2 linked regions of the Homo sapiens genome follow. The protein of the gene in region 1 interacts with the protein of each later gene in a biochemical or structural test. Each region holds a gene or a part of one and is shown in the gene's direction. Other genes may lie near its edges.

Region 1 (7,298 bases):
TGAGAAGTGTCTGTTCATATCCTTTGCCCACTTTTTGATGGGGTTGTTTTTGTTGTTGTTGTTGTTGTACATTTGTTTAAGTTCTTTGTAGATTCTGTATATTAGCCCTTTGTCAGATGGGTAGATTGCAAAAATTTTCTCCCATTCTGTAGGTTGCCTGTTCACTCTGATGATAGTTTCTTTTGCTGTGCATAAGCTCTTTAGTTTAATTAGATCTCATTTGTCAATTTTGGCTTTTGTTGCCATTGCTTTTGGTGTTTTAGTCATGAAGTCTTTGCCCATGCCTGTGTCCTGAATTGTATTGCCTAGGTTTTCTTCTAGGGTTTTTATGGTTTTAAGTCTTAACATTTAAGTCTTTAGTCCATCTTGAGTTAATTTTTAACTGTTTATTTCATTACATTAGAAAGTTTTACTTCTGGCTGCCAGCCAGCTTATTGACTTTTTCTTAGGTGTAATTGTTTTCAGTTGATCCCCTGTTTTCACAAGGAACAGACAGAGGTCACCAACAGTAACAAAGTAGGGGAAAATGCCCTGAAGAAAAAGTTTAGTATGTGATAGGAGCTCAAAACCTCATTTTGCTTGGCAAGTCAGGGAAGGCCTTCTAAAGGAAGTATTGTTTAAATGGAAACCTGAAGGCTGCAACAAGAGTTAGCCAGACAGGTCGGAGGAAGAGCTTCCAAACAGAGAGGACCAGCATGTGTGATGGTCTGGAGGCACAATGCACCAGAACCTGGAGCAGAGATGAGTGGCCAGAAAGACAAACAGGGTACTTGAGACCATGTTAAGGAATTTACATCCAATCATGAGTCTAGTAGTCAGCAACTGGAGGTTTTTGAGCAGAGCTGAGATAGATTTTTAAATAATTACTCTAGCTGCTTTGTGAAAAATGGACTAAAGACTGGGAAAGGAGTCCAGTCAGGAAGCAGTTATAGTAGTTTAGCAACTTACTCATGTTGGACTAGGCTATCATTGATACCATCCTTCTCTTCAGCCCTTTAGTCTTTAAGGAGTAAAATTTAAATTTGTATTGGGTTGAAAAAGTACATATTGGAAAACATGGGATTTTCTGTTTCAGATTGGCCACTAGTAGACTATATTTTATTACTGCATGGCTTGTACTTTATAAAAAGCATATGTTGACACATTTGTCAGGTTTCCTATGTTATTCGAGATGAAGTGGAGAAGTACAACCGAAATGGAGTCAATGCTCTGCAGCTGGATCCAGCACTAAATAGACTTTTCACAGCCGGTCGAGACTCTATCATAAGAATATGGAGTGTCAATCAGCACAAGGTAATGCAGGGATTAAAATCTGTACCCAGCAAATTCTGGACAAATGGCTTTTACTGTCTAATATGACACTTTTCACAGTTTCAGATTTAATCTCTCTGAATGCTGAGTTATTTGGTACACTCTATAAAGACATCGCAACCAGAATTCTGTAAGCCTCTGAGAAAAACCATCCCTAGGAAAGTTTCAGAAGTGTTTCAGCTAAGACAAGGACTCCCTAAACTAGGTTTGCCTTACAGAGTTCTTTGCCACAAAGGAACAAAGTGATTTGGCTAGTAGGGGGATTACTTTCAACAATTAATTTTTTTGCTTTAAATATGTTCCCCAACAACCTCTTGGTAACCTTACTAAAAAAAGATTGAATATTCTTTTACATTTCTAATTAATCTTGAAAAAATATTTTATTTTCCTCACTTAAAAGTAATTAGGATCCTCACAAACCCCACACGGCCTAACTAGGTAATACAAGGTTAGGCTGAGCATGGTGGCCCACACCTGCAATCCCAACAATTTCGGAGGCCAAAGTGAAAGGATTCCTTGAGTCCAGGAGTTCGAGACCAGCCTGGGCAATGTGACAATACCCTGTCTCTGCAAAAAAAAAAACTTAAAAATTAGCTGGGCATGGTGGCACACACCTGTAGTCCCAGCTACTCGGGGAGCTGAGGTGGGAGGATCACTTGATTGAGTATGGGAGGTTGAGGCTGAGTGAGCCGTGATCACACCACTGCATTCCAGCTTGGGCAACAGAGGGAGACCTTGTCTCAAATAAATAAATAAAGATAATATAAAATTGGTGTTAAAACTATGAAGACAACATGCTCCCCTTCAAAGATTTCCCTTTCTTAAGCAGGGAACAGGGTTTAAATATGTGTAAAGATAAATCCCCAGGCAAATGGTAACGAGCCCTTTTAGTATTTTGTTGGAACACCTATATTGTGAATGACAGAGAAAAGAAGAATCAGGGAAGAAAAAAAGAGCATTTATTGATCTTCTAATTATGTGCCATACGCTCTTTGCATTTTCATATCCAATGTGATTTTAATTTTCAGTGTCCCTCAAGGTACCTATTAGGATCCATTTTCTTTTTTTTCTTTTTTTTTTTTTGAGATGGAGTCTCGCTCTGTCACCCAGGCTGGAGTGCAGTGGCGCGATCTTGGCTCACTGCAACCTCTTGACTCCTGGCTTCAATCAATTTTCCTGCCTCAGCCTCCTCAGCAGCTGGGACTACAGGCACACGCCACCACATCCAGCTAATTTTTATAATTTTAGTAGAGACGGGGTTTCACCATGTGGGTCAGGCTGGTCTCAAACTTCTAGACTCAGATAATCCAACTGCCTTGGCCTCCCAAAGTGCTGGTATTACAGGCGTGAGCCACCGCGCCTGGCCAGATCCATTTTCATAGATGAGAAAATGGGCTCAGAGAAACCCATGGTTATGTGGCTAGGAAGTGACAGAGAATTAGTACCCAGCCCAACTTGAAAACCCTAGTGCTAGACCTTGTATTTTTAAAAGTTTGTGTCTTTTTAGCAAGTTTTACAAGTCTGATATTCAGTTCAGAAAAAGAACCACTACTTTATGCGCCTATAACTTCAGTCTGGCAGGCTTTGAATTCTTTAGCCAATGGACCATGCAGTGGTGGCCAAATGTCAAAAGCATGAAAAGTAAGAAAACTATGTTTGGCTTTGAAATGCTTTTTGGTACTTATAATTGAATTGGAATGTCTCCTTTCTGAGCATTCACAGTATTTCAAACAAATTAAGAAAAACACCCAAAAGAACTAACCTGAAGAATCTGGAAATCTGCCTGTCTTGCCCCAAACATCTTTTTTCTGGTCTTCCTTTTATGACAAGATTGAATAGCATTATTTGTCAAACAGACTTGTACAGAGCTGTTCTGTTTGCCCATAAAGTGTCTCAAACTTGCCTGTTTTAGGTGTAGGATGTAACTAAATACTGTTCTTTAAAAGGCCTCTCCTGGTTATTAAGCCAGGTAAGAGAAGTAGAATCTCGAATCACCTAATTGAAATGGTGACACAGGTTGTCCTTTCTCAGCCGTTGGGTTTCCTTTCATCTCTGAAGGCCTGTAGGTACCATGAGGAAAACATTTAATTCAGAGGGTGAACCCAACAGTAGGAAGCTGAAAGCAGAAGTGTTTATCTCCCTCTGCATTCAGACCAGGCTCCTTAGTGCACTCATCAGACTCATTGCTGCCCCTGCTGTCTGCTGTTGAGCCTTCACCACCACTCATTCAAATCCCCACAGCCTACAGATTCCTACAAGTCATGTCCTTTCTAGTGAACCCTTTTTAAAGGGTTTTATGTCACACACAGTGCCTAGTCCAGAGCTTGTTGCCTTCACTTTAACAAGGCAAAAAAAAAAAAAATGAAGTATTTGTCCTGGAAACCTAAGCTTTCAGTAAGAGTAAAACTGTCCTGAAACAAAACTGTTTACATCTGTTATCTGGAAGCATCACCTATTTGGTGAGATTCTACTCAGAATTCAGGTGTTAGTTTTAATGCCTAGAGCAGTATGTCACATTAATTGAAGAATTTAACCATATCTATCATTTGTAATATATTTCATTCTCTCATATAAACTCTTAGGATTTTTCTTTTAATTTCAGCAAGATCCATATATAGCATCTATGGAACACCATACTGATTGGGTAAACGACATTGTACTCTGTTGTAATGGGAAAACATGTAAGTATTTCTTTGGATTATTATTGGGCTTCTGATATATTTTTTGTTTTTTATATAAGCTTTTTTATTGAAACATACATACAGAAAAGTACACACACTTCGAGATTGCAGTTCAACACAATTTTAGAAAGTGAATACCCAAATCAAGAAACAATATTACTAGAAGCCCTCTTGTGCCACCCTTTGCCACCCTTTCAGTTATTCCCTCTTGCCCCAAGGTAACTGCTCTTCTGTCTTCTGAACACCAAAGGGTAGTTTTGCCTTCATTTGAACTGTATATAGACTCGTACTATATGTATTCTTCTTTTAGCCTTATTAATACCTCTTTTTGTTCTAATTTTGGTGAGATCCATTCCTTGGTTTTGCAGTCCGAGTTACAGGAATTTTTCTCAATCACATTAGTTGAGCCTTCAACTGGAACATTAAAAATGTTTGCACTGCTTGTTTTAAAAATATATTTTTTTCTTTGAACATGTGTCTTGAGATTTTAAAAAATTGAGGCAATATACAATAGGTTCTAGAAAGAGCTTTTAGGTATGTTTGTGTGTGTAAGAGAGAGAATATGTTAGTTTGAAATAATGTTACATTGTTGTAAGATAAGTTTTCAAAGTTTTAAGTCATACTACTAAGGAGTTTGTTAATTCTTTGCTTCTTCTAGTAATATCTGCTTCTTCTGACACGACAGTAAAAGTATGGAATGCACACAAGGGATTTTGCATGTCAACATTAAGGACACATAAGGTAAAACAATACAGTTCTCAGTGTCTTTAGTGTAATATTGGGATCTCAGTACTTTGTGTGGCTCATTTTATTACTGATCTACAGAATAGATCATAGTATGTCTGTTCTATTACAGGATTACGTAAAGGCCTTAGCATATGCCAAGGATAAAGAACTAGTAGCATCAGCTGGGTTGGACAGACAAATATTCCTTTGGGATGTGAATACTCTAACAGCATTGACTGCCTCAAATAACACTGTCACAAGTAAGGTGTTTAAAAGAAACTTCTTTGAAAGTGATCCAAGTTAACATAAATAAAGAATGGTTTATAAAACATTTTTGATAGGTTTGCATCGAGAGAGTGTTTCATATTTTGAGAGTGCTTCTACCTACAGCGTTCTGGCCCCCAAGAGTATGATTGAACAACAAAGAGCTAGTTCCTCACTGCAGTCTAAAAATGGTAACTTCTCCAGGTATAACCTGGTTATTTTTTGTACGTGTGCATGTCTTAGCTCCCTAGCTAAAATGTAAGTCCCTGCAGGGTAGAGGAGACTGTCTTACTACTTCGTATCTCCCACAGCATTCCCTGGTCCAAATCCATACACTCAGCAGGTATTATTGAAGGAGGTGGCGATTTTCTGACAAAGTAGGCGGTTTTCTGACTTTTTAAAGTGTTAAGAGCTTTTGAGTTAATAGCCAAGATGAAAAATACCCAGGAGAAAGAAAGAAAAGGTTTCCAGTGCCAGTTTATCAAATTTTCTGCCTTTTAGAGCAGCCCTGAGGAATCAAGCCAATTCCAGAAGAGCCAGAACGGTAGAGTGCTTCTAGAGGCAATCCAGAGATGTTCACAGCATGGATGATTCATCAGCTAAGAGATCTCAGACTACCAAGTCAGGCTCATACAAGTCTAGATTTGAAATTGAGCTTCATGCTTGGCCCAACCTAGTAGAGTCCTCTAGGCCAGGTTTCAGAAGGGACTGTTAGGAGCACATTTTTGGCTAGGCCTGACCTGGAAAGTCTACATTGAAGACATGGGCCTGCATTCTCTGGATCCCTACATTATAGGTCCATTTTATAACGACTCTGTGGAGTGTTCACATTGACATAGACAATACAGTTTTACTAATATAGCCTAGTATGTGCCAAGAAGGGTAAGTTGGGAGACTTGTGTTTATAATCTCTTGATTGTTGTTTTGCCTTGTTTTCCAGGAAATATGTGAAGGTCTCAACATTCTTTTTCCCTTGTTCTTGATTTTTCACCTGTACATTATCTCTGATTCATTAGCTGGTCCCTGTTGGGGCTGTCATGGTACATCATTAGGTTTTAAGTCTGGATGTAAGGCCTGCCTCAAAGAGACACTAATGGGAGGGAACAAAGCAAAAAAAAAAAAGCAGGTTGTCACAAGGTCAGGGCCCAGGCTTAGTGGATACAGATTCTGCTACATCTTGCTTAGAGTTGTTTAGAGAGGATATCACACTTTTTTTTAATACATAATAATAAAAATAATACTAATAATGGCTAACCTGTATTGAGTACTTGCTACAAGTAGACATTTTTCTAAACAGTACATGTAGTAACTCATTTACTCAACTTTTTAATATGTTTGTAAAATTGGGTTCATACTATATAGACAGTTTCATATACATCTTTTTTACTTCAGTGATACTGAGAGTATGAACATGATTTTTGCTATAGTCTGAATTCCTTCCTGAAAGGTTGTACCTATTTATCTTCACATAAGTAATATATGAGAGTTCCATTGTACTGTTTTCTTTTTACAATCAAGTATTACCTTGTTTTTTGTCTTGGTGTATGAAACAGTGTTTTTGGTTTGATTTGTGTTTGAAAAATACTGAAATTGAACATTTTTTCATATTTATGGCACATGAATAGCTTTAAACATATCATTTAAGCGGATAGCTTTTCAATGGCACTGCAGTTTATCAGATATTGAGCATTTGTATATATTCAAATCCAGAAAATATGTAAATTTTGATAATAATACTGTTTAGATTTATCTCCATTATAGGTAGATTTCTTTTCCGTAGAGGACTTATAAAGATAAGATTTTCTAAATTGAATAAACTTGCAGTTTTTGCTGACTAGTTACTAAACAGCTGATGATCTTGTTAACATTTAGCTCCGTTTATCCTCAATAGCTTCTTCTTTAAGTGGAAACAAAGATTCCATTTATAGCCTGGCCATGAATCAACTGGGAACAATCATTGTATCAGGGTCCACTGAAAAGGTAAGGAGGAGCTTATTTCTTTATTTAAAAAAAAAAATTATTTTTCACATACCTTGTCTCCTATTTTTTAAGCAGGTATTTTACGATTAGCTTCTTTATATTTATTTATTTAGAGACTGGGTCTCACTCTGTCACCCAGGTTGGGGTGCAGTGGCATCATGATCCTGGCTCACTGCAGCCTTGACTGCTGAGGCTGTAGCGATCCTTCCACCTCAATCTCCTGAGTAGCTGGGACCCCAGGCACACACCATCACGTGCATCAGGCCACTCCTTGTCCCATCTGGCTAATTTTTGTATATTTTTAATAGAGACAGGGTTTCGCCATGTTGTCCCTCC
Region 2 (3,730 bases), on another chromosome or scaffold:
ATCATGGCTAACTTGGTGAAACCCCTGTCTCTACTAAAAATACAAAAACTTAGCCGGGTGTGGCGGCAGGCGCCTGTAGTCCCAGCTACTCGGGAGGCTGAGGCAGGAGAATGGTGTGAACCCGGGAGGTGGAGCTTGTGGTGAGCCAAGATTGCGCCACTGCACTCCAGCCTGGGCGACAGAGCGAGACTCCATCTCAAAAAAAAAAAAAAAAAAAAACCTGCAGTCAGGGATATCTCCTGCTCCGGTCTGTGCGCTCTGTGCCCTCGAGCTCCCAGGTGATCTGAACAGGAAGCTGCACTGGCCCCTGTCTCTAGGTAAGGAGGATAGGACCCAAGCATTCCACAGGCCACACCCAGACAGTTGCCAGCCTCCCCATCTACAAAACCTCAGCCTGGAAGTTTGCGAGTCATTCATTCATTCAGGATTTATGAAGCATTTATCATGGACGTGCTGCTCTAGGCCAGCCGTTGGTGTCTGGTTAATCAGGATTCCTGGTAAGTGAGTTGGTATTTGGAGTATCTACTCAGAGGTGGACGTTCCAGCTTCCAGGAATCTAGGATATGACAGAGTACTTCAGGCTGGTGCCTCCAGATTAGCGGAGACCCTGGGCTCCAGCCACACTCTCTGTAGCAGCTTTCAGAGTCCTTTTCCTTTGTCCCTTCTCTGTCATCCTAGCGCTGAGAGAGCTGGGCAGGCCCAGGTTCTTAGCCCCATTCTAGGAATGCAGCAACCCAGGCTCAGAGAGCCTCAACAGCCTGCCCTAGGTGGCAGTACCCGGATTCCATCCCGTTTCCTGACTCAATTCCACTGCTGCCTCTGTGCTACCACAAATAGCAAGACTTGTCTTAGCTATGCCCGAGTGCTGGAGTGTGCAGCTGACTGCTGGGAAGAACCAGCTTGGACCCTTTGGAGAGGGGCTCTGTCCCTGCCCCTGTCTGCCCTCGGGACATATACCAGCTCACGTCTCTGCCCCACAGGCTTGCCCACAGGTGACGTTCCCATGGATGGCATGTCCGTGTCTGACCTGGGTCCTGTGGTGCTCAGCCTTTTGAAGATGCCAGAAAAATACGTCGGCCAGAACATCGGGCTGAGCACTTGCAGGCACACGGCCGAGGAGTACGCTGCCCTGCTCACCAAGCACACCCGCAAGGTCGTGCACGATGCCAAGGTGGGCCTCCCGCCCCAGGTGACTCAGGCATCCTTGTCAGGGCTTTCTAGCTCCCGTAGGGAGGGTGTGTCCAGGGCTGCCCACACCTCTGGGCAGTACATCTAAATTCATTCGTTCATCGTCAACGTTTATTTTCTGCTGTTCCAGGAGCTAACTGGCCACAGAGTGAAATTTCTGGCTTAGATGTTTTGACCAAATAGAGAGAAAAGCTTCCAGGAGGAGAGGGCCATAGGAGCCAAGGCAAGGAGGGGTGAAAATGCAGGCCCTGCCGGGCTCCTCTGTGGGAGGGAATTTGAAGAGAAAAGAGTCTGGAAAGATAGACCCGACCCCTCCCCTGTGGGAGGGGATTTAAAGGGAAAGAGGCTAGAAAGATAGGGCCGACCCCTGCCCCCATTGGCCTGGCTGGGTGGGCAGGAGGCCTACTGGACAGACTCTTGGGTACCTGGTTTCTAATGTTTGTCATTACCATTAGGAAAGTAAGACATACTCATTAAAGAATCTGGGAGGCTGGGTGCAGTAGCTCACGCCTGTAATCCCAGCACTTTGGGAGGCCGAGGCAGGTGGATCACCTGAGGTCAGGAGTTTGAGACCAGCCTGGCCAACAGGGTGAAACCCCATCTCTACTAAAAATAAACAAATTAGCCGGGTGTGGTGGCAGGCGCCTGTAATCCCAGCTACTTGGGAGGCTGAGGCAAGAGAATCGCTTGAACTCAGGAGGCAGAGTTTGCAGCGAGCCGAGATGCCACTGCACTCCAGACTGGGCGACAGAGCGAGACTCCAACTCCAAAAAAAAAAAAGAATCTGGGAAACACTGGAGTCCTTAAAAGACGAAAGTTGGGTCAGGCGCGGTAGCTCACACCTGTAATCCTAGCACTTTGGGAGGCTGAGGCGGGCAATTACAAGGTCAGGAAATCGAGACCATCCTGACTAACACGGTGAAACCCCGTCTCTACTAAAAATACAAAAAATTAGCCCGGCGTGGTGGGCCTAACTCCTGGGCTCAAGCGATCCTCCCACCTCCACCTCCCAAAGTGCTGGGATGACAGGTGTGAGCCACTGTGTCTGGTCAAGCTTTGGTTTTTGAGAAAGAAAGTGATGCAGGCAGGTCTCTGATTTGGAAGGGACTGAGATATTTTCGTCTCATGATCTGAAAATAATAGTCTTTTTATTTATTCATTTTTGAGACAGGGTCTCACTCTTGTTGCCCAGGCTGGAGTACAGTGGGGTGATCTCAGCTCACTGCAACCTCCACCTCCTGGTTTCAAGCGATTCTCCTGTCTCAGCCTCCTAAGTAGCTGGGATTACACGCACCTACCACCAGGCTGGCTAATTTTTGTATTTTTGAAAGAGACGGGGTTTTATCGTGTTGGCCACGCTGGTCTCGAACTCCTGGCCTCAAGAGATTTGCCTGCCTCAGCCTCCCAAAGTGCAGGGATTACGGGCATGAGCCACAGCATCTGGCCAAGAACAATCTTTAAACTGATCTACAATGTCAGGCAGCTCAGGAGAGCAGCAGTTTCTGAACTTTCGGCTCTTAGAAGTTTTCAAATGACCTTGTACGGAGGACCTGGGTCAGGGACCGAGACAATAGTGGCTCTGGGTGTAGCAGGTCGGGAGACCCCAGCCCATCCGGCCTCCCTGCCCCGCCACCTCCCGGGGCACTGGAGGACGCCGGCCACGACAGGCTCCTCTGCTTCCAGATGACTCCTGAGGACTACGAAAAGCTTGGCTTTCCCGGTGCCCGGGACCTGGCCAACATGTTCCGTTTCTATGCCCTGAGACCCGACCGTGACATCGAGCTGACCCTGAGACTCAACCCCAAGGCCCTGACGCTGGACCAGTGGCTGGAACAGCACAAAGGGGACTTCAACCTGCTGTGACCTGCCCGCCTCGCGGCCCCTTGTGGGGATCGGGGGCACCAGAGGGGCAGAGGCACCAACATCTGAATAAAGCCATTGTTCTCCCAGATGGCTTCCAGGAGAAGAGGACTCTGCTTCCAGGACTTGGGTTGGGGTGGTAGTTGTGTACCAACACAACAGTAAGTGGTTGGGGAGGGTCCGGGGCTGTACCAACACAGCAGTAAGTTGGAGCGGGGGGGGGGGGTCCAGGGCTGTACCAACACAGCAGTAAGTGAGGGGACCCGGGGTTGTACCAACACAGCAGTAAGGGGTGGCTCCAGGGCTGTACCAACACAGCAGTAAGGGAGGGTCCAAGGCTGAAGGGATCACTTGGTGACTGGGACGAGTGACCTAAACGTGTTTAGTCAGACAGGTGTGAAGTGGCCTGTTCTGACCTCAGCTAGCAGAACAGCTCTGACCAGCAGCCTCTGTTCCCACATTTGAAATTCATTCACAGACGGGGACATAGCACAGGACACAGAGGAGCCCCAGGAGCCGAGCTTCTGACACACCCCTTTCATCTCCAGAGCTAGTGAGGCCATCTGCACATGTGAACTGGAGACAGGCTCTGCAGGGAGGCGGGGGAGATATGGGCTTCTCCCTTTCTCTCCTCATCCTTGTCCTGGAAGGAGCCGGCCTTGGGGTACCATCCTGGACACAG

What was found.
Region 2: the proteins of WDR48 (region 1) and NMRAL1 form a complex in vitro, tested with the Homo sapiens proteins (one study listed by BioGRID).

The regions. Positions count from the first base shown.
Region 1 is NC_000003.12:39,061,898-39,069,195, forward strand, and holds part of WDR48 (WD repeat-containing protein 48), read left to right. Parts: intron 1-1,152; coding exon 1,153-1,293; intron 1,294-3,913; coding exon 3,914-3,992; intron 3,993-4,650; coding exon 4,651-4,733; intron 4,734-4,848; coding exon 4,849-4,978; intron 4,979-5,059; coding exon of another isoform or gene 5,060-5,173; intron 5,174-6,873; coding exon 6,874-6,962; intron 6,963-7,298. UniProt on the Homo sapiens protein: Regulator of deubiquitinating complexes, which acts as a strong activator of USP1, USP12 and USP46. Enhances the USP1-mediated deubiquitination of FANCD2; USP1 being almost inactive by itself.
Region 2 is NC_000016.10:4,461,101-4,464,830, reverse strand, and holds the end of NMRAL1 (nmrA-like family domain-containing protein 1), read left to right. Parts: intron 1-980; coding exon 981-1,171; coding exon of another isoform or gene 1,172-1,189; intron 1,190-1,318; coding exon of another isoform or gene 1,319-1,354; exon of another isoform or gene 1,355-1,411; intron 1,412-2,871; coding exon 2,872-3,051; 3' UTR 3,052-3,137; downstream 3,138-3,730. UniProt on the Homo sapiens protein: Redox sensor protein. Undergoes restructuring and subcellular redistribution in response to changes in intracellular NADPH/NADP(+) levels.